Homo sapiens: one gene and its partners. The protein of the gene in region 1 interacts with the protein of each later gene in a pairwise test. Each region holds a gene or a part of one and is shown in the gene's direction. Other genes may lie near its edges. The genes, in order: ABI1, CCDC57, NHSL2 and VASP.

Evidence for each region.
Region 2: the proteins of ABI1 (region 1) and CCDC57 interact in binary tests that used the Homo sapiens proteins (3 or more experiments, as listed by UniProt).
Region 3: the proteins of ABI1 (region 1) and NHSL2 interact in binary tests that used the Homo sapiens proteins (3 or more experiments, as listed by UniProt).
Region 4: the proteins of ABI1 (region 1) and VASP interact in binary tests that used the Homo sapiens proteins (3 or more experiments, as listed by UniProt).

Annotation. Positions count from the first base shown.
Region 1 is NC_000010.11:26,745,645-26,752,989, reverse strand, and holds the end of ABI1 (abl interactor 1), read left to right. Parts: intron 1-1,206; coding exon 1,207-1,392; intron 1,393-4,244; coding exon 4,245-4,420; 3' UTR 4,421-6,394; downstream 6,395-7,345. Other genes in the region: all trans-polyprenyl-diphosphate synthase PDSS1, read right to left, coding at 6,517-6,657. UniProt on the Homo sapiens protein: May act in negative regulation of cell growth and transformation by interacting with nonreceptor tyrosine kinases ABL1 and/or ABL2. May play a role in regulation of EGF-induced Erk pathway activation. Involved in cytoskeletal reorganization and EGFR signaling.
Region 2 is NC_000017.11:82,209,361-82,216,959, reverse strand, and holds the start of CCDC57 (coiled-coil domain-containing protein 57), read left to right. Parts: upstream 1-4,117; 5' UTR 4,118-4,175; intron 4,176-7,599. UniProt on the Homo sapiens protein: Pleiotropic regulator of centriole duplication, mitosis, and ciliogenesis. Critical interface between centrosome and microtubule-mediated cellular processes. Centriole duplication protein required for recruitment of CEP63, CEP152, and PLK4 to the centrosome.
Region 3 is NC_000023.11:71,913,605-71,921,086, forward strand, and holds part of NHSL2 (NHS-like protein 2), read left to right. Parts: intron 1-7,482.
Region 4 is NC_000019.10:45,510,452-45,517,933, forward strand, and holds part of VASP (vasodilator-stimulated phosphoprotein), read left to right. Parts: intron 1-7,211; coding exon 7,212-7,383; intron 7,384-7,477; coding exon 7,478-7,482. UniProt on the Homo sapiens protein: Ena/VASP proteins are actin-associated proteins involved in a range of processes dependent on cytoskeleton remodeling and cell polarity such as axon guidance, lamellipodial and filopodial dynamics, platelet activation and cell migration.

The DNA of each region.
Region 1 (7,345 bases):
AATAGCCCCAGAAATTGGCATTTGATTTAGTATGTTTGTATTATGAACTTCTCCCCTGCAGGAATTATGTAATTCCTGTATCAATTTGTATGAAAACATTTTCATATGTCTTTTGAACTTTTAAAGAAATTTATTGATCAGAAATTTAAGTTAAGCATTAATTGGGTTCCAGCTTTGAATTCTTTAAATTTTAGGAGCATTTTTACCTGATATTATACTAGTTCATTGAACAGAGCTCTAGCCTGACATTTTCCCATTTCCCTGTTTACACCTTTGACTGTGTAAAGCACACACATATATACTGACCACGACCATCTAGAGTTTGAGGTATGAGTCATTTTTATTGTTTTGTTTACTGTAAGTTCCTTTTTGTTTGTTTTTTTTAATTACATCTTCAACACTTTATGTTTAAATCTTAATTGTTGATGTATTCTTAGAAAATCGAATCTTTAGGATCTAGGCTTTCCCTCATCCCGTGCTTATGTTTTACTAGCAATAATGCAAAATTTTAGCTTGCTTTCTACATTAAAAAACTAATTATGAATATAAACCTTTTTAAAAATACTCAATTAGATTTTCTACTGGTTGGGGATTCTTTTTCCATTTTTTCAACTTGTAAAATGTAAATAACAGAGTAGAAAATCTGCACACAGAAGCAGACCTAATACTACCAACTTTACTTTTCTCTTCATCAAAACAAACAATAATCAACAAAGAAACAAAAATCTGTCCACAGGAGACTGAATTTTTAGGGAACCAAAGCTGTTTCAAGCCAAAATCAGGGGCATGAATGAGCAGAGTGAAGAGTGATCAAACCATTAACGTAATGTTACTCATATCATTACTGCAGTCCAAATGACAAAAGTGACATAGATTTATTTTAGATTGTTAACATTTGTCCCGATCTGAACCTTGGAATAAGGAAACTACTCCTATAATCCTTATAAAAAGAGACATTGTCTCCTAACACCCTGCATTCATTAATTTGTAGTACTTCCAGATACCCTTATTTTTAGCTCATTTTGTTATTTTTAAATGATTCTTGAGTAGCATAAACTTTAACACACCAAGCTTTTATTTCTAATCATTGCATGTTTTATTATAGTGCATGCTGTACTTAAGTTAGAGCTTTCTTAAATTCTGTTAACTTATAAGTTTCCATCTAGACTTATTTTTGATTCAAATCAATCATATGAATCTTTTTAGTTGCTGATAGTCCAACTCCACCGCCACCACCTCCACCAGATGACATTCCCATGTTTGATGACTCTCCACCTCCCCCACCACCACCACCAGTGGATTATGAAGATGAGGAGGCTGCAGTAGTTCAGTATAATGATCCATATGCAGATGGGGATCCTGCTTGGGCCCCCAAGAATTATATTGAGAAAGGTAAGGTACAGTCATTGAGTTGATGTGAAGGAAAATAACCTAATTGTAGAAATTTAGAACTATAAAGAACATCTAATCCAATGTTTCTCAGCCTTTTAAACTGCCTTACCAACCAAGATGATTTACTTAAACCTTACTTCCTAAGTTTTGTATTATTCCCAGTGTACAGGGGGATTCTTTCTTTGTATTTTAAATAAAAGTTGCAGTGTTAGATTTGCTTTCAAACTACATATGCGTTCAGCTGAAGATTAACTTGCTGGACGGCATTTTATAGATGAAACAGCTAAGGCACAAAAATGGAGTTATATGTAATTAGTAAAGATTTTAAAAGTTCTGTCAAGCTCTATTGATTACCTTTCATATCTAAATATGGACGGTCCCTGATTTATGATGGTTCACTTTAGGATCTTTTCAACTTTATGATGGTACAAAAATGATATGCATTCAGTATGCTTCTCAACTTATGATGGAGCTTTGTCTGGATAAACCTGTTATAAGTAAAAAAAATACAAGTTGAAAATGTACTTTCAATTTACAATATTTTCCACTAAACAGTGGGTTTATTGGGACATAACCCCATTGTATGTAAGTGGAGGAGCATCGGTCTTTAAAAATATATTAGTACTATCATGAGAAAAGCCTCAATTAAGGTTTCAATTAGGTGATTTTATAAAACACAAGAGAAATTATCAGGATTGTATTTCATGAAATTATGAACTACTCTAAAGTCTAATTTACCTATAGTACCCGATATTCACTATAATTATCTATTAAGAAATATAGGTGGGGAAGAAACAAATCCTGTTTCTAGTTTTTATTTTTTCATCCAGTTCTGTGCTATTTTAAAATCTGTATTTCTTTTTGCAGAAGTGGGAATCAATTAAAAATAAAATCTGTATTTCTATAGAGTTCTGAAAAATGCTTGTGATTTAGTTGAACACTTTTGGTTGCCTTTGAAATATATTTCCTTCTATTGACTTTACTGGGTTAACGGACTTTAAGCTAGTAGATGTAGCTCTTGAGACCAGCAGCATTCTTTCCTGCCCAAGTTTTGGATATGTGGCAAAAGTAAATTTGTTTTCCTTTTATATTTTTTTATTTTTTGAGATGGAGTCTTGCTCTGTCTCCCAGGCTGGAGTGCAGTGGTGCAATCTCGGCTCACTGCAACTTCCGCCTCCCAGGTTCCAGCAATTCTCCTGCCTCAGCCTCTTAAGTAGCTGGGATTACAGGTGCCCGCCACCACGCCCAGCTAACTTTTGTATTTTTAGTAGAGATGGGGTTTTGCCATGTTGGCCAGGCTGGTCTTGAACTCCTGACCTCAAGTGATCCGCCCATCTCAGCCTCCCTGTGCTGGGATTACCGGCATGAGCCGAGCGTGGCCTTATATTTTTAAACAGTAAGTAATTTACATATTGTTAAGAAAGTCTTGAATATTCTACTTGAGATTCCCATATACCTTCAAATAGAGAGCTGTTGTTACTTACGAGGATGATAAACTTGAGTGACCTTGAATTGTGTTTTTACCCATATTTTCTTACTTGGTGAAGCCAATTAACTGTGAAAATGGGACCATATTTATATAAGTTGACAAATTTGGAATGATATATTGGGTAATATATTTGATAGTAGAGGAGGATTAAAAAGTATATTCCCAAGAACTAGGGGTGAGCACACTTTGTTTGGTATAAAGCCAGATAGTAAATATTTTAAACTTTGCTGGCTATACAGTCTCTGTCACAACTACTCAGTCCTGCTATTGTAGCGTAAAAGCAGACATAGACAATACATGAGTAAGTAGATGTGGCCATATTGCAATAAACCTTTATTTACAAAAATTGCGTGGTTTGGATTTGTCCATGGGCCATTTTATACATTTTGGATTACTTTCTCTTTCCATAGCAGTTTGCAAAGGAAGTGAATATAGGCTAAGCATCCCTATCTGAAAGTCCCAAATTCAAAATGCTCCAAAATCCAAAATGAGTTCCAACATGATGCCGCAAGTGGAAAATTCCACACCTGACCTCACGTGATGGGTCACAATCAAAATGCAGGCACATGACACAGTTTATTCAGTGTTCCCAAGGGAAAAATAAAATTACCTTCAGACTATGTGTATAAGGTGTATGTGAAACAAAAATGAGTTTTGTGTTTAGACTTGGGTCCCATCTCCAAGATGTCTCATTACGCATATGTAAAATTCCAAAATCTGAAAATCCCAAATCCAAAGCAGTTCTGATCCCAGGCATTTCAGATAAGGGTTACTCAACCTGTATCTTGAACTGAAAAAATTACAGACACCACAGAATTGCAAAGTTCTCTAAGTATTAATTAAAATCCTTTAAAGTAAGTAAATATTCTTTAAAAAAAAATCTGGGGACAGTCCCTTAAATTAGCATGGGTCCTTGAATGAGTAGGATGTGATTTACCTTCCAGTAACTGTGTTTTTTCAAATTAGATAGCTTGGATTGTTACCTGGTTTACTGAATGGCTATGCAGCTTTCTTTGCCTGATAATTATTTTGAAAAGCCGGTGCTTTGCATATGATAGGCACTTGGTATTTGAATGAATTGAAACATCTAATAAATTCTAAAATTCAGAGAGCTTTCTTAAAGTGATTGACAGAACCTATTGATGTATTCAGTCTAATCAGATTGTCATTTGGCTCTAAGATTAAGCCAATGATTTAAGTACATGGTTGGCCACTGACCTACTTATATTGATAGATACAAAAATTAAGAAATCTTCATAAAAATAGTTTTGCTGTGCTATATATTTAATTGTCTTTGTCTTAAAATTCAAGTAAATTTTGGATATAGTGCACTCATGTGATATTTCAACTGTTTTTTCCATAGTTGTTGCAATATATGATTATACAAAAGACAAGGATGATGAGCTGTCATTTATGGAGGGTGCAATCATTTATGTTATAAAGAAGAATGATGATGGCTGGTATGAAGGAGTCTGCAATCGAGTGACTGGTCTGTTCCCTGGGAACTATGTTGAATCAATCATGCACTATACTGATTAATTTTTTTTTTTCTTTTGAAGTAGATTCTTATTACTCAGTCATACTGTGGGACTATTATGGTTAACAGAACTGTCTTAATATGTTTTAAAATGTGCCCATATTTTCAGAACATGCTGTTTTATTGGTAAATTGAATGTCTACCTGTAAGCATAAATCTTTGAGGCAGTTTATGTATTGCTGAATAGCAATTTATACAAGAAGCTGTCCATAACTGATTATGCTTATGTACTTACTTACACATTTTTAACTTTATGACCAGCCTAAATATTCTGGGGGAAGTGGGGTATAATATTTAACGAATCATGATTCAGATTGTACCATTACATGTTTCAGTGCAGCATGGTTACTAACGCTATGTCAGACTAATATTAAAATCAGAAAATTTAAATGCTGGTGCTGGTCAGACTTTTTTTGTTAGATTCTCTCATTTAAAAAAAATACTGTTTGTTTAAAGCATGCATAAAAATTTATGTATTGAAATATACTTAAAAATTCAAGATGCTTCCCATTTGTGTAATATTTACCTGGAGGACTCGTACTTAGGTGTCTTAACGTGAATTGAGTCTCCAAGGTCTCCATGTGAAACAAGCAAAAAGAGAATTATCTGTAATGTTGTAATTTGTACCTAAGTTTTTTAATGAGTGAAATTTGCATTATAAACTTTTTCCATTCATAAATACATAAGTGAACCAAAGGTTTTTGTCCTTTCCTTCACTGATTTGCTTTAAAAAAAATAAAAGATAATGATTTATTGCAGAATTATGATTCTATTTTCTCAATATGTTAACTTGGAAAAAAATTTTAGCCTTATCTTAATCTGTCCCAACAGCAATGTGACGGATTTTTGCAGATTCAAAATCTGCAATGGTTATTTACAAGTCAATCTACTGAATTCCTTTTTTAAATAATCTTTTGAAACTAAGAAAATGTGTCAAATTGTGTGCATTCATTCTGTAGGTAAAATTCTTAAGGATTGCCATGTCAGTCCTTCAGTTGTACAGTGAACTGTTGTACACTGGTTCAATGAAAGGAAGTTAAAAGTACCTTTTACATATTGTAAAAGTGGATACAGTTGATTTGTGAGTAGGCACTCTTTAATCCATTACCTGGCACTAGCAACATTAGAATTTTAAAATAAAATAATTGGGAAAGAAGGTGGGTCATGTATTAATCAGTGAACAGAGATTTACCTAACCAACAGACTTGGATTGTCTTTTGACATAATCAAAATGCAACACATGCACTTTGTGTGTCTCCTCTTAATTGAAGGGAGGGCTGAGGGATGTTTTCTCTTCTTGTCTTGTGTATAATTCTCTATTGCTTAGGATATTAAAGTAGAGCACTCAAGTGTGGGTTTCTGTGTTATTGAGGATTTGTTTGGAATTCAAATTACAGTTATGTACTGGATGCTACAGACTTATAACAGCATAGTGAATGGTAAGACTAGTGCAAAACAGTTATTTCTGAAAATTAAAGACCATTATTGCTACCAAATCAATGTGACTATTTCATATGCATTTTGCCTTTGTTAATTTTAAACAAACAAAGTATCATTAGTGATCAGCTAGCTACCTTCTACTTTCCATTTTTCAAGTGGATTGTTCTCTTAATTTGTATATAACCTGTTGTCTAAATTTTATGTACAGTCTTTTATAATAAACCATTCTCCTATATGAAATTTTGGATACTGTTAAAATATAACTCATGTGGACTTCAATGCAGACTTCACATTTTTCTGACCTTTACTCCTACGGTAAATCAAGACAAACCATTTGAATTTTAACATTGGTTATTTATTTGTGTAATGGCCTTACATGTGGATATTAACAGTGTAAACAATACCACATATAACCATCAAGATACCTTGATTATAATTTATAGGACTAGAATGACAGATTCAGGTGGTTTATTAATTACATTTAAAAAGTTTTCTGAAAAAACTTTTGCAATAAAAAAAAATAAATTGCCCATCAATAAGTTTGATATCTTTTAAAATGATTTTTGGTTATCTGCACATGAAGCAAACAAAGTGTATTCCACAAAATTCTTTAGGCACAGTCTGGTAAGATAGCTGCCAGAAAGAACAGAAAGAGTTGTCATTTATCTCTTGTGAGTACAATTTCTGAAAGCTGAATGAGGGCATCTCTTTCTGGGGATGGTCGAAGTTTACTGATCTCTCTTATTGCTTCATGGCAGTACTGCTGGGCGAGGTAGGTTGTTTGTTGCACACCATCACTCTATAAGATACAGAACAAAACAGAACAGATGCCTGTCACTGACTGAATCAGCGTTTTAACTTCCTGCTATAATAAATGAACACATAGTTTTGAGATCAGATGAGCTGAGGATTACAGTTAACAGTCAAACTACATCTCTAATGTTCTTTTCCCGACTCATAGTGCTAACTTCCTTTAGGCCTTTTTCTCATATTGAAGCAAATTTTTATTCTATTAGCATGCAAAGCAACTAGCTCATCAATATTACATAGTCATTCGTTTTCCCCTAATTTTTACTTATTAGAATTTCTCAGAAGTTCTATGTACAAAGTATCTTTATACAACATTTTTAAATGTAAAAAAAACACAAGTAAAACTTACTTAAAAAATAAAGAATAAAGACATAACAAAATGAAAGTACAGAGGGTTTATGATGAAAATCAGCTTCCTTTCTTCCAAAGGCACTCACTTTATCCAATAGTTTTTTTTTTCTTTTTTCTTTTTTTTTGAGACAGGGTCTCACTCTGTCACCCAAGCTAGAGTGCATGACATGATCTTGGCTCACTGCAACCTTCACCTCCCGGGCTCAAGCGATTGTCCTGCCTCAGCCTCCCAAGTAGCTGGGACTACAGGCGCGTGCCACCATGCCCGGCTAATTTTTGTATTTTTAGTAGAGATGGGGTTTTGTCATGTTGGCCAGGCTGGTCTC
Region 2 (7,599 bases), on another chromosome or scaffold:
GGACAGAGCAGGGCGTGCCACAGGCACTGGCCAGATCCAGATCGGAGCAGGGCCCGCCCACACCCACCGGGCCCTTTCATTTCTTGGCTCCTCTCCTGCCACAGGGCCTGTGAGCCAGACAGATGGAGAAGTTGCCTCTGCAAGTCTGACGTGGGCATTCCCCAAACCTGAGAGGAAGTGGCTTGCTCTGGCCCATGCAGGCTGGTGCCCAGGCGGGGGCCCCCGCACCTCTTGTCCTGGATCCCTGTGCTTTTAGGGCCCTGCAAGAGGCCTGGAGGCCTCAAGCAAGCAGCTTTTGGGGGCTCCCATGGTGAGGTCTGCCACCAAGGTCAGTCTGTGTTCTGGGAAGCAAGAGCCTCAGCCCACACTTACGCCCTCAGCCATGGCCTTCTGACCTTCCTCTCACCCTCCCTTGTTTACCCCACTCAGTGACATGCGGCTGCCTGACACCCAGATGTGTGTCTGGGTGGGTGGGGCATAGGTGCCAGGAACGCAGCTGGGAGCAGGACAGCCAGTTCCCCACCCACCTTGCTCTGCCACAGAGGCATGGGAGGGTCAGGTCCTGGCCGTGTCACTCACCGGGGCACCAGGAAGGGCCCTCGGCCTCCACTGTCGTGGCATGATGAGGGTGGTTGCAGGACGGCCTGGGGGAGCCAGCACTGGGGGCTGTCAGCCCCACACAGGTCCAGGGCTGAATGGTGGTCCCCAAAGAAATAGGATCCAGTCGTAGCCGCTGGTCCATTAGAATGCGGCTTGGGAATAGGGTCATCGCCGACGTAATTGGCTGGGTGGTCCTGCTCCAACGTGATGGCGTCCTAAGAAGGGCAGCACATGGAGACAGACACACAGGAGAAGCCGCATGATGGTGGATATAGGGGCGGGAGGGGGCGATGTGGCTGCAGCCAAGGGTGCCGAGGCTGGAAGGGTTAGGTGCCTGTGGTCCCAGCTACCTGAGGCCAAGGTGGGAAGGATTCTCCCATAGGGCTTTTGGAGGGGCCATGGCCCGGCCGACATCCTCAGCTTTCCTGAACTGGGAAAGAAGAAAGGACCAGTTTGGGGTTCTTTGTTTTGGCGGCCCAGGCCCTGGCTCACACCCTGTCTGCCTTCCACCTGTGAGTCCTGCTGGGTGCTGGAGGCCAGGAGTGAAGGGAATGTGGTCTCCCTCAGCCAACTCCCGGCCACCCGCACTGAGGGTGCCCAGGTGGAGCCCAGCTGGGGAGCTGGGCAGGGAAGGAGGGGGAGGGGTTCTGCAGTGTGGGGGGGGCAGGGAAGGAGGGGGAGGGGTGCTGCAGTGTGGGGGGCAGGGAAGGAAGGGGAGGGGTGCTGCAGTGCTGGGGGGATTCAGTAGGTGTAGCCTCGGGCCTGAGCTGACGGCGGGCGCTCTGGGACCGTGGAGCTCAACCCAACGGAACGGCCCTCGAATCAGAGCACAGGCTGTGAGGGCCAGACCGGCCTGCCCCACAGCTTCAGGAACCAGGCAGTGCCCGTGGCACACCCTGCTCTGTCCCTGGGGCACCCGGGCATGTGGCTCAGCTGAAGGGGTGACCATGGGTGCCATGCTGCTGACTTGGGCCAGCACACGATTCCAGGTCCAGATACCCATGACGTGACAAATGACCTGCTAGGGCCGCATAACTCAACACCACAGCCTGGGCGGCTTAAACGACATTTATTTTCTCACTTCCGGAGTCTGGATGTCAGGGATCAGGCTGCCGGCAGGGTGGGTTCCTCCTGAGGCCTCTCCATGGCTTGCAGACGGCACCCTCTCCCTGCGTCCTCATGTGGCCTCTCCTCTGTGTGCTCACTCCTGGTGTCTCTTCCTCTTCTTTTAAGGACAACAGTTCAGGGTCCCACCCTTAGGACTCACGTAACTTTAATTACCTTCTTAGAGGCCCTATCCATAACACATAGGTTTAGAGGGTTTTTTTTGGAGACAGGGTCTTGCTCTGTCACCCAGGCTGGAGTGCAGTGGCGCGATCATAGTTCACTGTGGCCTCGAAGTGCTGTGTTCAAGTGATCTTCCCACCTTGGCCTCAGGTAGCTGGGACCACAGGCATGTGCCATCACACCCGGTTAATTTAAAAAAATTTTTTTTGGCCAGGCATGATGACTCACACCTGTAATCACAGCACTTTGGGAGGCCGAGGCAGGCAGATCACTTGAGGTCAGGAGTTTGAGACCAGCCTGGCCAACATGGCAAAACCCCATCTCTACTAAAAATACAAAATTAGCTGGGCATGGTGGCAAGTGCCTGTAATCCCAGTTACTCAGGAAGCTGAGGCAGGAGAATCGCTTGAACCTGGGAGGCGGAGGCTGCAGTGAGCTGAGATCACGCCGCTGAACTACAGCCTGGGCAACAGAGCGAGACCCTGTCTCCCGAGCTCAAAGGATCCTCCCTTTGGCCTCCCAAGGTGCTGGGTTCACAGGTGTGAGCACTGTGCCCGGCCCACACATGGGTTCCCATAGATCCCACTTTACAGGCAGGGACACTGAGGCATGCAGAGCCGGGATACAGACCAAGCAAGTCCTGGCTCCTCTTCTGGGTGTCCCAGCCCGTCTCGGACACCCACGCTTACCCAGGCCTGGTGGCTGCATCGTGGACATGGGGGCAAGGCAGCTCTCTGGGTGGGCAGAGGCAGGAGCTGAGGCAAGGATGTGGGCATCCTTTTGGGTACATCTAGTCCTAGAGCTGATCCAGGGGCCAGTCAAATGTGCAGCCAAAGTCGGGTCAACCCCAGCACTGTCCTGTGGGTGGGGGTAGCAGGGAGCCAACAGTCCAGGCCCTACATCCTGTTCTAATAGAGTGACAAGTCTGATGAGGCTGGGGGTGCACAAGCACTGAGAAGGCAGCAGGACAGGGAGCCAAACACATGGGGTGGTGGGGGAAACCAGGGAGCTGGACACAGGGTGGGGGGGTCCTGGGAGTTGGACACATGGGCCAGGTTGGGGGTCCAGGGAGCTAGACACAGGGGGTGGGGAGGGGAGTCCAGGGGACTAGACACAGAGTGGGGGGTGGGTCCAGGGGGCTAGACACACAGTGTGGGGGGTGGGTCCAGGGAGCCGGACATACACATGGGGTGGGGAGGGGGCATCCAGGGAACCAAGTCTAGGCAGAGGCAACTGGCGCAAAGGACCTGAGGCAGAAGAGGGTTTGGTGTGTGAGGCGGGACTGAGGACTGTGGGCGAGGGAGACAGCTCTACCAGGACGCATGGTTCGGGGAGGACAGGCTGCAGGGTGCCTGGGCTGCAGGCACGGCACGGAGAGGAGTGATCCAGTGTTAACAATGTGGGTGGAGGATGACACCAGACCCCTGGCTTATTGCCCCACCAGGGGAATTCCCAGACACCAAACACCCCCTCCACTCCCACGCAGAATTGCGGGCTGAGGGTTCGGGTGAGCCAGGCTGCTCTGTCCCGGGGCCGGGCTCTGTTCATCCATCCGCAGATGGATACGGACACGTGCCTTTTTCTGAGGATGTGAATGGTTGGGAATGGCTGTGCCTGAGGATGTTGTTCCCACAGGATGGTGGGGGCGACTTCGGGCCTCGGTGGGTCCCGACCCCCCTCCTTCCCCCAGTTCCCTAATCAGGGTCTGAGCGACCGCGCGCACGGCCCCTGGGCCCCGCCGGTCTCCGAGCCCGTGGGCAGCGCCGGGAACTCGTGCCCCGGTGGCCGCAGCCGACCCTTAGGCAGGACTTCGTGGCGCCCCCGGCCCGAACAGACCCCCACGGGCAGCCTCGGCCGCCCCGTGCTCCCTTCATCTCAGGGCAAAAGCTCAAGTCAACCCTTCGGGACCGCGAGCCGGGCGGCCTCAGGAAGCGGGCGCCTGGGGACCCTCGGCCGGGCCGGGGGCGGCGAAGGTGGGGGCGCCTCGCGCGGCGGAACCCGCCGTCCCCATAGCCCGGAGCCCCGTCCGGAGTCGCCCCGCTGACCGGTGAGGAGGCCGGGCTCCCTCCTTCGATCTGCGGCGGTGGTCGGGTCGGCCGGGGCGCCCCTCGGACCCGGGCGCAGCGCGGAACCCGGCGGGGCGGGAGGGGCCGGAACCTAGCGCCAGGGACCCCGTTTCCTGTCGGCGGGACCCGAGCGCTGCACCGAGCGCAGCCGGACGCGGCCGACTGACCCGGTCGCTGTGGCAACGCGGCGGGACCTGGCCAGCGCTGCTGGCGGGCGTTAGGGTGAGGTGCGGGCGGGCGGCGTGGGAGGCGTGGGAGGCGTGGGGGGCGCCGCTCCGACCACTCTTCCTGTAGAAAACCCCAGCAGCTGCCGTCCTGTCGGACGCAGCGCTTTGGTGGGGACCTGGAGCGCGAGGTCGACCCTCAGAGCTCGGCCAGGCCCGGACCGGGGATCCCCTCGCGGAGGCTGCGGCGGGGCGGGGCGGGGGTTGCGGCCGCGTGGAGCGGGAGCGTTCCCTCGGTCTCCCGTGGGTGACCTGGGGCGGTGGGCGCTGCCGACCAGGGCCCCGCAGCCCCGGGAGAATTCCCCGGGTTCCGCCGCCGGCAAGGACGGCTCCGCGCCCAGGCAGCCTTACAGTGTCTGTGAGTTTAAAAAAAAAAAAAAAAAAAGAGAGGAAAAAAAAAGGCCGGAGGCGGTGGTTCGCGCCTGTAATCCAGCACTTTGGGAGGCAGAGGCGGGCAGATTGCTTGAGGCCCGGAGTTCGAGACCAGCCTGGCCAACATGGTGAAACCCCCTCTCTACTAAAAATACAAAAATTATTGGGCGTGGTGGTGCACGCCTGTAATCCCAGCTACTCCGGAGGCTGAAGCAGGAGAATCGCTTGAACCCGATGTTGTAACTGAGGGAGTTATAGAGAGAACGCCACACTCTGAGACTACTCAGGAGTCCTGTATTGCCAGCGACTGACAGACTGCTAGAGCTGCAAATTCCCTCGGCCCCGAAGAAGGGGCTAGATTTCTTTTGATACCTTGGTCTAAATAGAGGAGGGGAGGCTAGCTGAAGCGATTTTTTTACAGAAGCAGAATAGGCAAAAAGTTAAAAGATAAATGGTTACAGAAACAGTTACAGGAAAATAAACAGTTCCAGGTACAGGGGCTTAAATTATCACAAAGTGATAAACGCAGGGGCTTTGGGTACCATCAACCGAGCGCGTTCCCAGGAGCTGCTGGTACAGCTTGCTCCAGTTTCTTATCAGTATTTTATCAGTAAGCGCATTCCTGGATGTGCTTGGAGTCAGCTTGCCCCAGTTATGTCCTTAAGGGACGGGGACAAGGGGCTGCAAGCGAAGAAACCAAAATGGTGTCTGTCCGGCCCTCTCAGCTAAGAGAGAGTCAGTCAGGTTAAAACAAAGTAGGGTACCACACCGAGAGGCGCAGGTTGCGGAGAGCCAAGATCGCGCCATTGCACTCCAGTCTGGGAGACAAGAGCGAAACTCGGTCTCAAAAAAAAAAAAAATTATCTGTAACTTAGAAAAAGGATACAAAAGGAGCACAGATTTCCCGTGTGCCTTTTGCCCAGAGCCCCTAGAATGCTGACCTCTTAGAGAACCACAGTTCATTCAGCAACATGTAGACGCTGGCGTTCATGTTGGTATCATCCCATGATCTGGTCTCCAGTATTTATTCTTGCTTAGCAGCTACCTCATGGATGACTTTACCGTGGTCCAGGATCCAATGATGAGTCCACTATTTTATAAAATGCCCCCCAGTTCGGGGGCATTTCTCTGATGTTTTGTCATAATTGATTTCATATTACTGATTTTTGGCAAGAAAACCTCAACAGGGAAATTGTGCCCTTCCCAGCGTCTTACGAGACACAGGATGCCCCTGGCTGTTGGTGCTAGTCACGTCCTGGGGGCTGAGGTGGTGTCTGCCAAGTGTGTCCATAAAGTTAGGGTCCTTCCCTTTGTAAATAATAAATATTTTGTGGGGAAATATCTTGCCACTATGTAAAAGATGATGTTTCTTTCTTTCTCTCTTTTTCTTTTTTTTTTTTCTTTTTTTTTTTTTTTTAAGACGGAGTCTCTCTTTGCCGCCCAGGCTGGAGTTCAGTGGCGCGATCTCGGCCCACTGCAACCTCTGCCTCCTGGGTTGAAGTGATTCTCCTGCCTCAGCCTCTCAAGTAGCTGGGATTACAGCCGCCCACCACCACCCCCAGCTAATCTGTGTATTTTTAGTAGAGACGAGGTTTCGTCATGTTGGCCAGGCTGGTCTCAAACTTCTGACCTCAGGTGATCCACCACCTTGGCCTCCCAAAGTGCTAGGATTACAGGTGTGAGCCACCGTGCCCGGCCTTTTTTTTTTTTTAATTAATTTTATTTTTTTGAGACTGAGTCTCTCTCTCTCTCGCCCAAGCTGGAGTGCAGTGGCTTGATCTCGGCTCACTGCAACCTCTGCCTCCCGGGTTCAAGTGATTGTCCTGCCTCAGCCTCCTGAGCAGCTGGGATTACCAGCGCCTGCCACCATGCCCGGCTATTTTTTTTTTTTTTGTATTTTTAGTAGAGACGGGGTTTCACCATGTTGGTCAGGCTGGTCTCGAACTGCTGACCCCAAGTGATCCGCCCGCCTTGGCCTCCGAAAGTGCTGGGATTACAGGCCTGAGCCACAACGCCCAGCAAGATCTTGTTTCTAACCATACTTCTGTCACTAATTTTAGCACCCATGAGTGTTTCCCCAAAATAACTGTTAATGTGCTATTTGTTAAATGATTTTTCTGTTTCCATTACTCCTACATTTATTAGTTGGGATTTTCCTATAAGAAAGAACCATCTCTTCCCAGGCTGGCTTGCAGGGGCGCGGTCTCGGTGTTAGTGCATCTTTTTATTCCATGGATTCTAACCCATCGCTATCACGTACTTTGTTGCTCACATTATCCAGATTGAGGTGTTAGGAGCCCCTTCAAGTTGGCCTCTCTGTCCTTATAGCACGTCCCAACCTTCTGGGAGCATTTTCTTTCTTTCTGGCATCACAGAATTCAGGCTTATCTTATGCTTGCCTTGACATATCCCAGAATCAGTCATTTCTCCAAGGAGCCCTGGTTCCTTTTAGTTTAGAAGGTAGTGTTTAGAAACCAAGATCCCAGTACCAGATAGACATATTGCTACTGGGATGCCATTTCTTCTTGGCTTTCTTAATGGATAGAGTAGGAAACGTGTTTCTATACACTATACACATGCAAATCTATTTCAGTATATCTGTGTCTCTGTATATATTAAAAACTGGCTGGGTACAGTGGCTCACGCCTGTAGTCCCACCACTTTGGGAAGCTGAGGGGGGAAAATCGCTTGAGGTGAGGAGTTGGAAACCAGCCTGGCCAACAAAGTGAGACACCCATCTCTATAAAAAATTACAAAATAAATTAGCCAGCCATGGTGGCGTGTGTCTGAGTCCCAGCTACTCTGGAGGCTGAGGTAGGAGGACCATCTGAGCTCAGGAGTTTGAGGCTGCAGTGAGCTATAATCATGCCACTGCACTGCAGCTCGGGTGACAGAGTGAGATCCCATCTCAACAAACAACAAACACCAAAAAAACCTGTGAGTTTATTACAAGTTACGCACTTGTAATCAAGTTAGGTTCACCTGTTTCTACTTCATTTTGAGTCCTTACTGATTTTAAGTTTTTTTGTTTTTTGTTGTGCTTTGTTTTT
Region 3 (7,482 bases), on another chromosome or scaffold:
TTGCCCTCAGATTCTTCCTCTAGCTATTTATTTTGACCATGGGGCAGGAGAAACCTGGGAAGGTGGGAGGAAGGTTGGAAAGCAACATGGCCAGAGTGAATGACAGCTGACAGGCCAGCAGTATATAGCCTCCCTGCAGTGACAACTTGGCTGCCACTGACTGAGTAGTGGCAAGTCAGACTGGCCTATAGCCTGCAGGCTGGGCTGGGGCCCTGAGAAGCAGCAGGGGAGGACAGAGAGAGGAGGAGCGAGATAGAGGAGGAGAAAGTGGATGCTGAAGAAGTTGAAGGTGCTTCTCTACACAATCACAATCATGGGTCATGCCCCCACCATCTTCAAGGTTACAGGGGTGGACTGGGCTAGGCTAGTTGCCTCGCAACATCCCACCCACTCCACTGAAGGCTGTTCTTTGGTAACATGAACCCCTTTGAGACTGCCCTAAAAGCTCTTGTAACTGGTATGGTGTGGGAGATGGGGATGGAAGGAGGAGACGGTAGACCACAGGACTGCCGAAGGCCCCTGTGGTTGTGGATCTGTGGCAGTTGCCACACCCTAGGCATGGCCCTGCCTATAAGTTGAGGTTTTCCCCACATCTGGTTTTGAATGTGTCCTGTTTTATGGCATCTGTGGCCTGTACACTGGGTTCTTCATCTAAAAAATGGTGTAGTCAAAGCCATTGGGAAATAGCTCCATGCCTGCCACCATATGCTGAGTCAATCTAAGCTTTCCAACTTCTCCCTTGGAGATCTATATAATGTTTGTAGGTGCTTAGATGATAATTACAAAAGCAATCAGGCCATCCGCGTAGGGATATAATATCTCCTTTGCCATCAAGGAAGTCACTGAAGGGCTAGATAATTCTAGGTATGTTTAATAACACTGGAAAACTATCATGTTACACTAGCTCATGAACTTGCTGTGGGAAAGATGTTCTGTTGCTTCTTACAATTATTTTGGCTTGAATACAGCCAGTTGGGTCCGTGGTGAAAACTCCCTCTTCATCTTTATGTAAAATTCCTACTTCTTGATTTTCCAACTTTATGGCAACTCTGGCTCCAAATCAGAAAGGACAGCTGGTTTATTTGTGTTTAAATCATAATTCCAGTGTGAGGATAGACTGTTGTAAATCTATACGGAGATGAAAAAATGAAAAAAGCACCTCCAGACTGCAATGAGTTTGCCATTAGATGAGGTGTTGTGGACCCTGAGTCTGACCGTCCTTGCTAATGAAGAGAAGAGATGGCCTCTTGAGTCAGATGGAGTGGGGAGGGTGGCAGGAATTTGGGGACTTGGAACAGGCACTCAGCCAGGGCTTACTTTGTCTCTGTGGTACGTTTCATCCCGAGGCTCTTGGGACAGAGGGTTGACAGAGTATGGAGGGAGAAGCAAACCCATTTTCTTTTCTCTTCCCACCCCACCCTGCTTTCCATTTTCTTTTTAAATACCATGAAATTCCTGGTCTGCTTCATGGTATTTCCATGTGTTGAAAACATCTTCCCTGGAGATTTGGATACCAAAATGTCCACTAGAATTTCTTCCACTTTAGAAACAAGACATTTAATCTTCTCTTTTTTAAGACACATGAATAGCTAAAGTGATAAAAGTGTCAGGATGTTGGAATAGTAGAGTAATAGGAGAAGATTCAAGTTATGGCTCTTGGGCTCAACCTTGACCTTGACGACATTGATTAGGTTTTAGGAGGAGAGTGGTATATTTACATCATCTGTTCCTGTACCTCTCTGGTGTGGTACCAACAATTCAGTCATTAACCACCATATGTGTCATAACACTTGACATCCCGGACCCAGAAAGGGGAAGGTACCTGTCCAAAGGCACCCAGCTGGATCAAGACCTTCAGTAGTCATGAGTGCTGAAAAGATTTTAGTGCCTCCCCATATGTAATTCCAAGTGAAAGCAATACTAAACCTTTAAACAAAAATGTTACTCTTTTTAAATGGCTCAAAGCTCACATGGATGTTGAAATTAAAATATCTTACTAGATTCTTTCTCCCTTCCTCTCTGTCTTTTGTACCCCTGCTGTTGGTGGCCTAATCATGTATTTAATCTGCTGATTTGGGAATGTGGTACCGGCTGGGTCACACAGCAGGTCAGTGACAGGAGGCCTCCACCTAGAAGCCATGCCTTCTGACAACCAGACTAGTGCTCTGCCCTCTGCAGTGATGCTAAGTTCAAAGTCAGTTGTTCTTCGAGAGTCATTTTCTTGGCATTTTCTCTAGTTGGAACTTGTCCAGGATGAGAAATAACTCCTGTTACCTTTAGTAACTGAGGGCACCCTGTGGTTCTGTAGTTGTGGCCGGGGGTGAGCTGAAGCTGGAGAGGAGAAAGGAAGGTCAAACTTTCTCATATAGAGAATATAGAGAATAGGTGTGAGGCAACAGGCTCTCTTGTTAAAGCAAAACATAGTCTTCTTTGAATGGAAAATTGCTCCAGAAAAAGGATCTTCAGGTGGGAAGGGGTGGCTGGCCAGTGACCCTGACACTGTTGCAATCCCTCCTGATCCCTCTGCCATCTTTATACCTGTTCTTCTCCCTTGTAGCTTTCAATCCAGTTGTAGACACTACTTGCCACACACCTGCATCCTGACTATTTTCTGTTATTCTAGTAGAGGCTGGTTGGCATTTCAGAAGGCACCTTTTATTAAAAACCAATGGGAACAAGAAAGTAACATTATTACCAAAAGTGCATTTAGCATACACATTTACAGGGTATGGATTTCTTATCCTTCAGTGCTCAAGTAGCTTAACAGGCTCACTGGCTTTGCTGCTGTATTCCCTTTCTGAAGGCCTCAAATCGTCTTTTCCTTAGATCATTATTTTCTAGCCTCGAAAAGTGGGCACAACTGCGTCTGGACCCTGTCTGACCTTTGTGCTGGGTGCTAAAGACCCAGAGGTGAATAAGACCCAATGTCTCCATTCGAGGAGCTGCCAAGCTGCAGAGGTAGGTGCCATCTCATTCCTGACCACATCAGCATGTGGTGCCTGGGAATCAGGTCTTATTTAGGTGGAGGAGAGCTGATAACCAGAACCAGGACCCTAGTTCACATACCAGAAGATTCTTCTGCTCAGTCCGGTTTGGCGTCCAAAGATGGAATTTGGACTTTTAGAATTCCCTATGGTAAAAACAAAAATAAAAACCAATCTGTCATTCTGTTAGTGTTATTGTGAATTTAGCAATGCTTTTAAATGAATTTGCAGTTTTAAACACTATAATGTTATCTTCATGCATATGAAGAGTAGTGCTTATTCAGTCCATAGACAATGCTTGGTGGATCTGCAAACTAACAGACTTCTTGTGATAACTCTATGGTCCTCTAGAGTCCTCTACTGTCAGTTGGGAATCGCTGGCCTTCCTGGTTCAAGCTATCAGCTCTCCCCTGCTCTGTGGAACTCCACAATTTCACTCAAATAAGCCCTCATTGAAGTTTTCAAGTTAGAGGGCACAGGATGGCAATCTTAACAGTCAAGACTACTTTAATAATGCCACAAACAGGAGGTATGTTTATTAAGTGTACAGGTAGTTTGCAGTAAAGTGCTTTGTATGAGGTCATGCACAAGACCACTAGGTATCAGCCAGTTAACTTGGGAGGTTTGAGCAATTAGGCAGCTCTTCCTCCCTCCCTTCCTCTCTCCCTCCCCCCTCCCTCCCTCCCTCCCTCCCTCCTTTCCTCCCTTCCATTCCCTTCCTCCCTCCCTCTCTTTCTAAAATGTAAGCTCCTCAATAAGATATAAGCTCCTTGAGGGTAGTAGTCTTTATCTGTTTTCACTGTTGTGTCTCCAGCTCCCAAAACAATGCTTGGCACCTAATAGGCACTTAATAAATACCTGTTAGATTGAATACCTTCTTTCTTTCTTTCTAGCTATCGCACACTCTTTGAGTACTTGACTCTGGGCCCTGCCCTGTGCTGATTTCTGGGGGTACAGAGTAGAACTAGGATGCAGGCCCACAGTCCAGTGGGGAGAACAGTGAGCCATAGTGCTGTGGAGATAAGGTCTAGGCTACCGGGGCAAGGCAGAGGAGGCACACCTGACTCAGGACAGAGGCTGAGCGAAGCTTCCAGGAAGATGTGATGTCTGAGTTCTGAAGGATGATCTGGAGCTGGCCGTTGAAGGTTGAAGAAGGTGGGGGAAGGAATTCCTGGCTCAGGAAGTAGCCTGTGCAAAGCCCTGGATATGTGAGAGAGCTGGTGTGGGGGAGGAATTCACTGCCAGTGATTCAGGAGGAGAGGGAGCAAGGCACCTCCTGACTCAGAATAAGCCCCCAGGGTGGAGGTGGGGTGGGAAGTTCCTCACATCCTGTTTGTTCGTCAGGGAGTTGGATATGAGGGTCTTGAGAAGGTTAAACTGCATGGTTCAAATGAAGTTGTAATATTAACTAACTGTGGATTTTCTTTATCTACACTCAAGTTTTCATTATCCTTGGGCAGATGAGACCCAGGCAACCTCGGCTCCTTCATGCTTTGCAGGGCCAGGCCCTGGGCCCCTCTAAAAAGGCTAGACAGAGCAGGAGGGGCTCCGAGCCACAGTGAGAAAGAGAGAGAAAGCAAGAGTCTACCTGCCTGTGTGTCCCCGGCTGTGTGTATCCAGTTGCACTCCAAAGCTAAATGTATTATTTATGCCCCTGCTTTTCTGTGAGTGGGGAAATTTGAGGCTTGACGATATCTTTTATTATTATTTTTCTTTCTGAATAGCATAGATTCTTCAGAATCGTCTGTAATTCATCAAGGGGAAAATCAGAATTTTTTTTTTTTTTTTAAAATGGACTCAAAGAGGAGATGAGTTTTTAAAAAATATCTATCATCTGTTTTTATTTTGACTGGAATCATTTGCTTCCGAGCACAGTGTAATTAGCTGCCTGACAATTTATAGCCTGATCCCCAGTAACTGAAAAATACCAAACTCAAATTATTCCCCCAGACTAGGAGGCCCGGAGGTGATTGAGGTCTCCTTACGTTAACATCCTCTGTCCTTGGGGGCTGAGGGGGAGGGCAGTTCTCTGCCCTTGCAGGAGGTGGTATCTCCGAGTTGTCAGCAAGACAGGCCTTGTTGTTATACACTGAGTGTCTCCTTTGACTCAGTAATTCCATTTCCAGGATTTTATGCTAAAGAAATAATCAGATATTGTGGGGGGAAAAATGTGCAGGGAACCCCCACTGCATTTTTTGGTTATTTGCATTAGCCAGAAAAAGGAAAATAACTTACACATTCAATAATAGGGGAGTGGTTATATAAATTTTCCTAGGTCTATGTGATAGACTAATATACAGCCATGAAAAGCTATGCTCTAAATGAATTATAAGGCTACATGGAAATGCACAAAATAATGCTGAGTAAAAACCAAAGATAAAATTTACTACTATATACAATATCGTCTAAAACAGAGCACCCACACAGACACATACACATAAGAAGAAACTGGAGAAGCCTATGCCAAAATGCTGACAATGATTATCTCAGGGTGATGGGATTATGGGGATGAGTGGTAGTATTTTCCTTCTACCATTCTGTATTTGTCAAAATTTCCCCAATCAACATCTATTACTTTTAGTAAATAGAAAAGACAATGGATGACATGTTAAGGAAAAGGATCTTTGGATTTGGAATCGTCAGCTTCCAGGTGAAGTCCCACTTGCCCAGCACCTACTATCTGACTCTAGTGTCTCTGAGCCACAGTTCCTCATCTGTAAAATGGGGTTAAATACTACCCAGTTCACAGGGTTGTTGTGAGGATCCAAAATAATGTATGTATTAATGAAATGCCTGGTGCCTATGCTGCAACCATGGACACCATCACTAAATACTAAGAAGGTGAAATTCCACGAAGCTTGCTGAAATCCCTGGATGGGGGTACTGTCAAGATGAAGTTATAATAAGAATGTTCCTAGACAGCTATGAATTGCAGCCATTCTTCCCTTTTCCAGAATATGTAAAGAATGTTTGTGTGCCCACGGAGGAGCCGCATCTAGCCTTTGAGGCTGTCAGCTCATCTTTCCCAACCCGAGGATTTTCCTTTCCTCTGACTCCTCCCTTCATTCTCCCCCACTGACATCTGTTCACTGCCTCGCCAACCAAGGGGGAAAACATTCTTTGGAACTGAAGCTGAGGCACCACCAAGAGTCAAGGCAGCTATGAGATGTTTATTGTCACAGAGAATATGTGGTGCTGGCTGACCACAGAACCTGCCAGGCTGGGATGCCAAGGAGGGACTTTAATGAAGCAGCAGAGGATGGATGCAAGCCGCATAGCCAGGCAGTGTCCCCTGCCTTTGGGCAGAGCTCTTGTCCAAGTGTCTCACTGGCTCTCTGTTTTCTTCCCCTTGGGATGTCTGCATGGCTCCTGGTTGAGCTCACCAGTTTTACAGAACCAGCCTGGTTTATGGGTGAAGAAACACCTTCTCACAGAACTTATGGGGCCTAAGCGTGTTTCAGTAAAGTACTGGGCAGTTTGCCTGAGGGCCCAGCATGCCTAACTCTCACCAGCGTGGATATGAAGCGAGGAAAACCTGAGCTCACAGCCAGGCAGCCTCAAGGACATAGGCACACCTCAGCAGTGTCTACAAGATGCCCTGGCCACCAGGCAATCCAGCCATCTCCCTGGGTAGAATCCTTCACACTGCATGTCTGATTGCATTTTTCATTTTTTAATTACAGCCGTAGACTCATATAGACTCTGACTGCCAATCTAAAGCACCTAGAGAGTTTTTTTAAATTGTTAATGTTTTGCTAAATTCTTAGTAATTATACAAAATCATTATGTAGACCAATAGATATTATTGACCAAGATATAGTGATGCTTAAAACAAAGTCCTCTGTAATCAGTACAACATGTTGGTAGAATTTACCCTAAATGTTAAAAAAAAAAAAAGTACTAATGCTGTGGCTCCACCCCATACCAATAAATCCAGAATTTCTGGGGGATGAGGCCCAAGAAACAGTACTATTTAAAAGTTCCCATGTGATTCTACCGTGCAGCTTAGGTGAAGAACTCCTGTTATAGATGTTAAAGCTGGGAGAGACCCAGTTTCCTGACTTATTTGAACACGCAATCCTTTACAAATTATACTTGTGGATAATGAGCATGAACTATGATGCAGACTTAGATTAAAGTAAGTGACAAAAAAAAATGATCTCGCAGATGAATTAATTGTAAGCAGTAATAATGCGAGGTTAGGTTACATATATATTTTGTTTTTGTTTTTTTTGAGACTGAGTCTTGCTCTGTCGCCCAGCTGGAGGGCAGTGGTGCGATCTCGGCCCACTGCAACCTCTGCCTCCCAGGTTCAAGTGATTCTCCTGCCTCAGCCTTCCTAAGTAGCTGGGATTACAGGTACCCGCCACCATGCCCGGCTAATTTTTGTATTTTTAGTAGAGACGGGGTTTCGCCATGTTGGTCAGGCTGGTCTTGAACTCCTGACCTCGTGATCCGCCCACCTTGGCCTCCCAAAGTGCTGGGATTGCAGGCGTGA
Region 4 (7,482 bases), on another chromosome or scaffold:
TTAACCTCAGGTGATCCACCCGCCTCGACCTCCTAAAGTGTTATTATTACAGACGTCAGCCACCACACCTGGCCCCTCATGGCAGTTCGAACAATGATACTATTACAACCTTGTGGCCTCCCCACCCCGGTACTCAGTTTATAGATGGGGAAACTGAGGCACAGGAAAGTTAGGCAAGGTGCCTATTAAACTCAAACAGGGCCAGGCGCCGGGGCTCATGCCTGTAATCCTAACACTTTGGGAGGCCAAGGCAGAAGGATCGCTTGAGCCCAGGAGTTTGAGAACAGCCTGGGCAATATGGTGTAACCCCGTCTCTACAAAATATACAAAAATTAGCTGGGTGTGGTGGCATGCGCCTGTAGTTCCAGCTACTCTGGAGGCTGAGGCGAGAGGATCGTTTGAGCTGGGGAGGTTGAGGCCGCAATGAGTCATATTCTTGCCACTGCACTCCAGCCTGGGTGACAAAGTGAGACCCTGTCTCAAAAAAAAAAAAAAAATAGAGATAACATGCTTTCCGTGTTCTTAATGAAGAAAAAGAAAAAAAAAAAGGAACGTGCTTTCACTGTGAAAACTCTTAAGATAATTCAGATAAGCCAAATGAAACCGAAGCTGCAACATTTATCTTCCTATTCACTTATGGGAAACTGAGGCCCACCAGGAGGAAGGGACTAGAGTAGCCCCATCCCCGACAAAAGAAGATTTGTCGTTTGGAAGGGTGGTGTATATGTATCATAGGTTTTATGGTATAAGGAGGGTATGGGCTAAGTCTTGGGTTCAGGGGACAGTGAAGGGAAGGGTAAGACTGCAAGTTTTGTGAAAACCGGATTCACCATGCTTGATTACCTCTGGTGATGGGAAGCTCTCTCCTTCATGTGGAGCGTGTACCAAGTTACAGTTCCTGCGTTTAGGGCTTTTTGTCCATTATCTCTTTTAATCCTTACAATGAACCCAGTGAGTTATTGTTTCCAGGGCTGGAAACTGAGTTTCAGAGAGGCAAAGCCACACAACAAGGAGGCAACTTGAACCGTCTTTTCATCCGCCATGTGCTAGAGTTTTCCAAAATGTGGGGACTTGCAGGGAGGAGTGGGTCCTGGGCTGGCTGGAAAATTAAAGTGTTCTCATGTCCAATGGAGGGTTCTAGACTTCGGGAAAACACACTGGAAATGGGCAGAACTCCTTTCCATCTCACAGCCCCCGCACCCCCGTTTTATGGCTATGGGATTTTCGTTCTGGCTTTTGTGTAGTTTACAGTTTTATTTATTGAACTTAAGTAGTGAGTTAGGTTTTTATAGGTAATTTCAACCCATGATAAGAAAACAAATAATAAGCAGTTTGAAATACTTACTGAAATTATTGAAATGGTGGCTGGGCCTGGTGGCTTATGCCTGTAATCCCAGCACTTTGGGAGGTCGAGGCAGGCAGATCACCTGAGGTCAGGAGTTTGAGGCCAGCCTGGCCAATGTGGCAAACGCCCAAACCCCATCTCTACTGAAAATAGAAACATTAGCCTGGCGTGGTGGCACACGTTTGTAATCCCGGACACTCAGAAGGCTGAGGCAGGAGAATCGCTTGAACTCGGGAAGTGGAGGCTGGGAGGCTGAGGCAGGAGAATTGCTTGAACCTGGGAGGTGGAGGCTGCAGTAAGCTGAGATTACACCACTGCCAGCCTGGGTGCAGAGTGAGAGACTCTGTCTCAAAAGATAAATGGTACAAAATATTTGTTTCTTCCCTCCCCAGTTCCTGAGTTCCCCTCAATGGAGGCAGCCACAGTTAGTGTCTTGGGAAACAGTCTCTGCATATATCACCACTCTGAGTGCAGATATATTTATATATGCTCCTCACTGTTTTTTTTTTTGAGATGGAGTCTTGCTCTGTCGCCCAGGCTGGAGTGCAGTGGCGCGATCTCAGCTCACTGCAACCTCCACCTCCCAGGTTCAAGCAATTCTCCTGCCTCACCTCCTGAGTAGCTGGAATTACAGGCACGCGCCACCACGCCCAGCAAATTTTTCTATTTTTAGTAGAGACAGGGTTTCACCATGTTGGTCAGGCTGGTCTCAAACTCCTGACATCAAGAGGTCCGCCTGCTTCGGCCTCCCAAAGTGCTGGGATTACAGGCTTGAGCCACTGCGCCTAGCCTACCTTTTTTGTTTGTTTGTTTTTGTTTTTGAGACGGAGTCTTGCTCTGTCCCCCAGGCTGGGGTGCAGTGGCGTGATCTTGGCTCACTGCAACCTCCGCCTCCTGGGTTCACGTGATTCTCCTGCCTCAGCCTCCCAAGTAGCTGGGATTACAGGCGCCCGCCACCACGCCTGGCTAATTTTTTGTATTTTTAGTAGAGACGGGGTTTCGCTATGTTGCCCAGACTGGTCTCAAACTCCTGACCTTGTGATCCGCCTGCCTTGGCCTCCCAAAGTGCTGGGATTACAGGCATGAGCCACCGCACCCGACCTTTTTTTTGGTTTTGTAAAGCCTCTGATCAACACTACCTTGTACTTTGGCTTTTAAAAATTTCAATTTAGCTCTGCTTCTTCATCTTTAAATGAAGTTAAGAACTTGTGGGAACTTCGTTTCAACTATGAGCCCCTCTGCTTACTTGCTGTGTGATCTGGGGCAAGTGCCTTCACTCCTCTGTGCCTGCAATTCCCCCTTGTCAAAAGGGTGAGCGTCAGAGCCTATCCCATGAGGTTGTAGAGTCATGCAGCAGGGAAATTGGTGTCAAGCACCAAGAAGAGTGTCTGGGACCCAGGCTGACTGAGAAATGTTAGGTGTCCTAGGTAAAAGTTTGCCTTTTTTTGTGAGGGAGTCTTGCTCTGTGAGGGAGTCTTGCTCTGTTGCCCAGGCTGGAGTGCAAGTGACCTGAACAAGGCTCACTGCAGCCTCATCCTCTTGGACTCAAGTGATCCTCCTGCCTCACCCTCCTGAGTAGCTGGGACTACAGGCAAGCGCCACCACACCCAGCTAATTTTAAAGTTTTTTGTACAGACGGAGGTCACCATCTTGCCCAAGCTAGTCTCTCTCCTTTTTTTTTTTTTTTTTTTTTGAGACAGAGTCTCGCTCTGTCTCCCAGACTGGAGTGCAGTGGTCTGAGATCGGCTCACTGCAACTGCCTCCTGGGTTCAGTGATTCCCCTGCCTCAGCCTCCTGGGTAGCTGGGATTACAGGCATGAGCCACCATGCCTGGCTAATTTTTGTATTTTTAGTAGGCATAGGGTTTCACCATGTTGGCCAGGCTGGTGTCGAACTCTTGACCTCAAGAGATCCACCTGCTTTGGCCTCCCAAAGTTCTGGGATTACAGGCATAAGCCACCACACCCAGCCTTCCCAAGCCAATCTCAAACTCTTGGGCTCAAGTGATCCTCCTGCCTCAGCCTCCCAAAGTGCTGGGATTACAGGCGTGAGCCACCTCCCCTGGCCAAAGTTTGCCTTTTTTTACAGATGTTTCGTAACTATTGAGTCCCTACTATGTGTTGGACGCCATTCTAGGTTCTGGGGACACAGCAGTGAACAACTGGGACACAAATTTCTGCCTTTTTGGCAGCGGAGACAGACAAATATTGTGTTGGGCAGGGGTCACTGCTATGAAATGTGCAGCAGGGGATGAAAAGGAGAGAAGCGTTTCCAGCTAAGGGAGTGAGGGACGGCTTCTTGGAAGGGGTGACATCTAAGGAGAGACCTGAAAGTGGGGAGAGGCTAGGCCTGAGGAAGAAGCAGCACACAGGCCCGAGGCAGGAATGTGTCTGGCCTGCGGGAAGAGCAGCATGGGGGTAGGAGGTCTAGGGTCTGGAACAGAGTCCCCAAGGGACAGTGGAGCGGGAAGAAATGAGATCTGAGGACACACAGATCACGGAGGCCCTGGAGAGAACTTGGCATTGATTCCGTAGGAGCCTGGAGCCTTCAAGAAGAAGAAGAGACATCCCACCTTGTAGGTTTTTGTTAGTTTGTTTTGTTTTTTAGAGATGGGGGGTCTCACTGTGTTGCCCAGGCTGGTCTTGAACTTCTGGACTAAAGCAATCCTCCCGCCTCGGCCTCTCAAAGTGCTGGGATTACAGGCATGAGCCACCGTTCCCCGCCCCACCTCGTGTTTTAACAGGATCCTTCTGTTACAATGGGTATAGTGTTCCCTGGAGAGGGGCAAGACCACCCCTTGGTCACCCAGCAGGCGCCCTGTTCTCCGGCCAGTCCAGAGCCTCAGTAGGGCAGGGCTGCCTGGGAGAGCAAAGTGCAGCCAGGGCGGGGCAGCAGCAGCCCCGGGCTCCTGGCCAGAGTCGGCCCTGGGTGTGGGTGGCAGGTGTGGGTGAGGCCGAGGCCTTAACCCTGCCTTGCCAGGGGCAGCAGGAGCCAGAAACAGCCCCCGAGGCTGTGTTTGTCTGGAAAGGGCACCTGGTGTTTGGGTGGGGCCCACACAGTTCCCGGTGGTTAAGGCTTGGAAGCCTGAATTCACATCTTCACTCTATTCCTCAGTAGCTGTGTGACTGTGGGCAAGTCACTCAACCTCTCTGGGCCTCTAGTCCTCACCTGCAAAATTAGAATGAGTGGCTCTCTGGATAAGCTGCAGTGAGAATAAAATGAGTGACTTTGGGGGAGGGGCTTAAGGCCCCTGATCCACCTGAAATGCCTAGTAAGAGGGAGATGGCACAATTAGGTAAATTTGAGGGTCCCTACCCCAGGTCCCTACCCACAGCTGAGTCTGCCTAGGGACTTTCCCTGCCCTGACTTCCCAGCATCAGTGTCACACCCAGCCCCCAGCCCTCCTAGAGACAGAGGCTTTGCGGGGGGTGTCTAATTTCTGTCCCCGGAAACCTCTGACCACCAACTTCCCCATTTCAGGAAAAAGCCTGGTGTGGGTGGGGTGGGGAGGAGACCAGTGCTTCCCCTTCCCCTGTGTGACCTTGGGCAAGTCACTTCCTGTTTGAGTTCCTGTCTAGGCCTGAGTTTCCTCACTGGGGGAGAGGGGATTGAACCTCCCAGAGGGGCTGGTGGGAGGGTCCCGAGGGTTGTAGCTGTCCCGGGCCCCAGTGGTGCCCATGAGAGGGATGTTGACAGTTACTGAGCTCTCGGCGTGTGCTGGACGCTGTACCAAGCACTTAGCTTTTTTTCTTTTTTTTGAAACAGAGTTTCACTCTGTCGCCCAGGCTGGAGTGCAATGGCGTGATCTCAGCTCACTGCGGCCTCCACCTCCTGGGTTCAAGCGATTCTCCTGCGTCAGCCTCCTGAGTAGCTCAGACTACAGGTGCACACCACCACGCCCAGCTAATCTTTGTACGTTTTTGTAGAGACGGGATTTCACCATGTTGCCCAGGCTGGTCTCGAACACCTGAGCTCAAGCGATCCATTCACCTCAGCTTCCCAACATGCTGTAATTACAGGCGTGAGCCACCACACCCGGCTGTACCAAGCCCTTTAGGTGCCCAGATTCATGTGCCCCTCCCCCACTGCCCTGGAGGTGGGGACTGTCATTTTCCCAGTTCACAGGCAAGAAGAGGTCTTGAGTGGGAAGGTCATGTGCCTGAGTCACATGAAGTAGGTGGCTCAGTGGGGATTTGAACCCAGGTCTGGGGATATCAGCTCCTGAACTCTGCACCAGTTTACTGACACCTCCCACCCAGGCTAAGTCAGACGTTGCCTTTTCCAGGAAGTCCTGCCTGACTCTCCAGGCTGGGGCAGGCGTTCCTTCAGGGTACCCCCAGACCCTGGGCTCCTTGGTCCTAAACCTGGGTTGGTACCGTCTGGGGACAGCTGTGTCTCCCACACTGGACTGTGAGCCCCAGGAGGGTGGTGCCGGAGCTGTCTGGGTCACTGCTGTGTCTTCATCCCCAGCCCCACCCAATATAGGCCAGACACAGAGCAGGGAGTATCTGGGGAATGGCCGCTAGTGCCCTGGGGAGCCAGGCGAGGGGTGGGCAGCGGGAAGTCCCTTTGGAGGAAGAGCTCAGAGGTCTGGGATGGGTCCCCAACCTGCTGCAGGCCTCACACTTCCCCTCCCAAGCCTCAGCTTCTTCCTGAGCAGGCAGTGGTGGAGGGGGGTGCGTAGAGATAGGGAAACTGAGGTCAGGCAGGGGCTGGTCCCTAGTGCAGCTCTGGGCTCTTGGCCTCCTTCTGGCCCCTCTGTCTTCCCTCCTGCCCTCTGCTCTGCTAACCCGCATCCCCCCACTGGCATTGGCCTCGGCCTCTTACACCCCTCAGCCTGTCTCTCCATCTTTATCTTTTCCTTCTTATTAGTTTTGTTGTGTTGTGTTTTTTATTTTTCATTAAAAAAGTTTTTTTGTGGACTGGGTGTGGTGGCTCACCCCTGTAATCCCAGCACTTTGTGGGGCTGAGGCAAATGGATCACTTGAGCCCAGGAGTTCGAGACCAGTCTGGCCAACATGGTGAAACCTCGTCTCTACTAAAAATACAAAAAATTAGCTGGGCTTGGTGGTGCATGCCTGTGATTCCAGCTACTCAGGAGGCTGAGGCGGAGAATGGCTTGAACCTGGGAGGCAGAGGTTGCGGTGAGCCGAGGACAGCCCGGGTGACAGAGTAAGACTCTGTCTCAAAAAAAAAAAAAAAAAAAAAAAGATTAGTCGGGTGTGGTGGTGCATGCTTGTAGTCCCAGCTACTTGGGAGGCTGAAGTGGGAGGATCGCTTGAGCTCAGGAGGTCGAGGCCACATTCCAACCTGGGTGACAGAGAGCAAGACTCTGTCTCAAAAACAAAAATAAAAATAATAATAATAATTATTATTATTAGAGATGGGGTCTCACTATGTTGCCCAGGCTGCTCTGAAATGCTTGGGCTCAAGTGATCCTCCTGCCTCAACCTCCAAAGTGCTGGGATTACAGGTGTGAGACACCACGCCAAGACCATCTTTATCTCTTTCTGTGTCTGCCTCTTCCTCCAGGTCCCCTGTCTGCCCATCCTTTTTCCCCACCCCTCCCCCATCTGTTCATCTGTCTGTCTGCCTTCAGTCTGTCTCTCCTCTTTGTCAACCCGACTCTCCCTTTCCCACCTCTCTCTGCGTCTGTCTCTTGCATCTCGTTTGTGTGTTTGCCTGTCTCTCCTGATCTGATTTTCTCTCCTGATCTGTCTCCCCCGTCTCCTTCTGTCCACGTGGCTCCTGCCTCCCTCTGTGTCACTCTCTTCCTTCCACACACTGTCTTTGTCCCTTGGAATCTCCCAGGAGAGACCCAGATAAGAAGGTGACCGGCCCCTCTCCCTTTTCCTCCCGCCTGCAGCGAGACGGTCATCTGTTCCAGCCGGGCCACTGTGATGCTTTATGATGATGGCAACAAGCGATGGCTCCCTGCTGGCACGGGTCCCCAGGCCTTCAGCCGCGTCCAGATCTACCACAACCCCACGGCCAATTCCTTTCGCGTCGTGGGCCGGAAGATGCAGCCCGACCAGCAGGTGCAGCTTCCCGCCGGCCCCCTCTGTGGGCTGAACCCCTACCCGCCCCACCCCTGCGCCCGCCGCCCCTCACCCCCCTTTCCCCTCCCACCAGGTGGT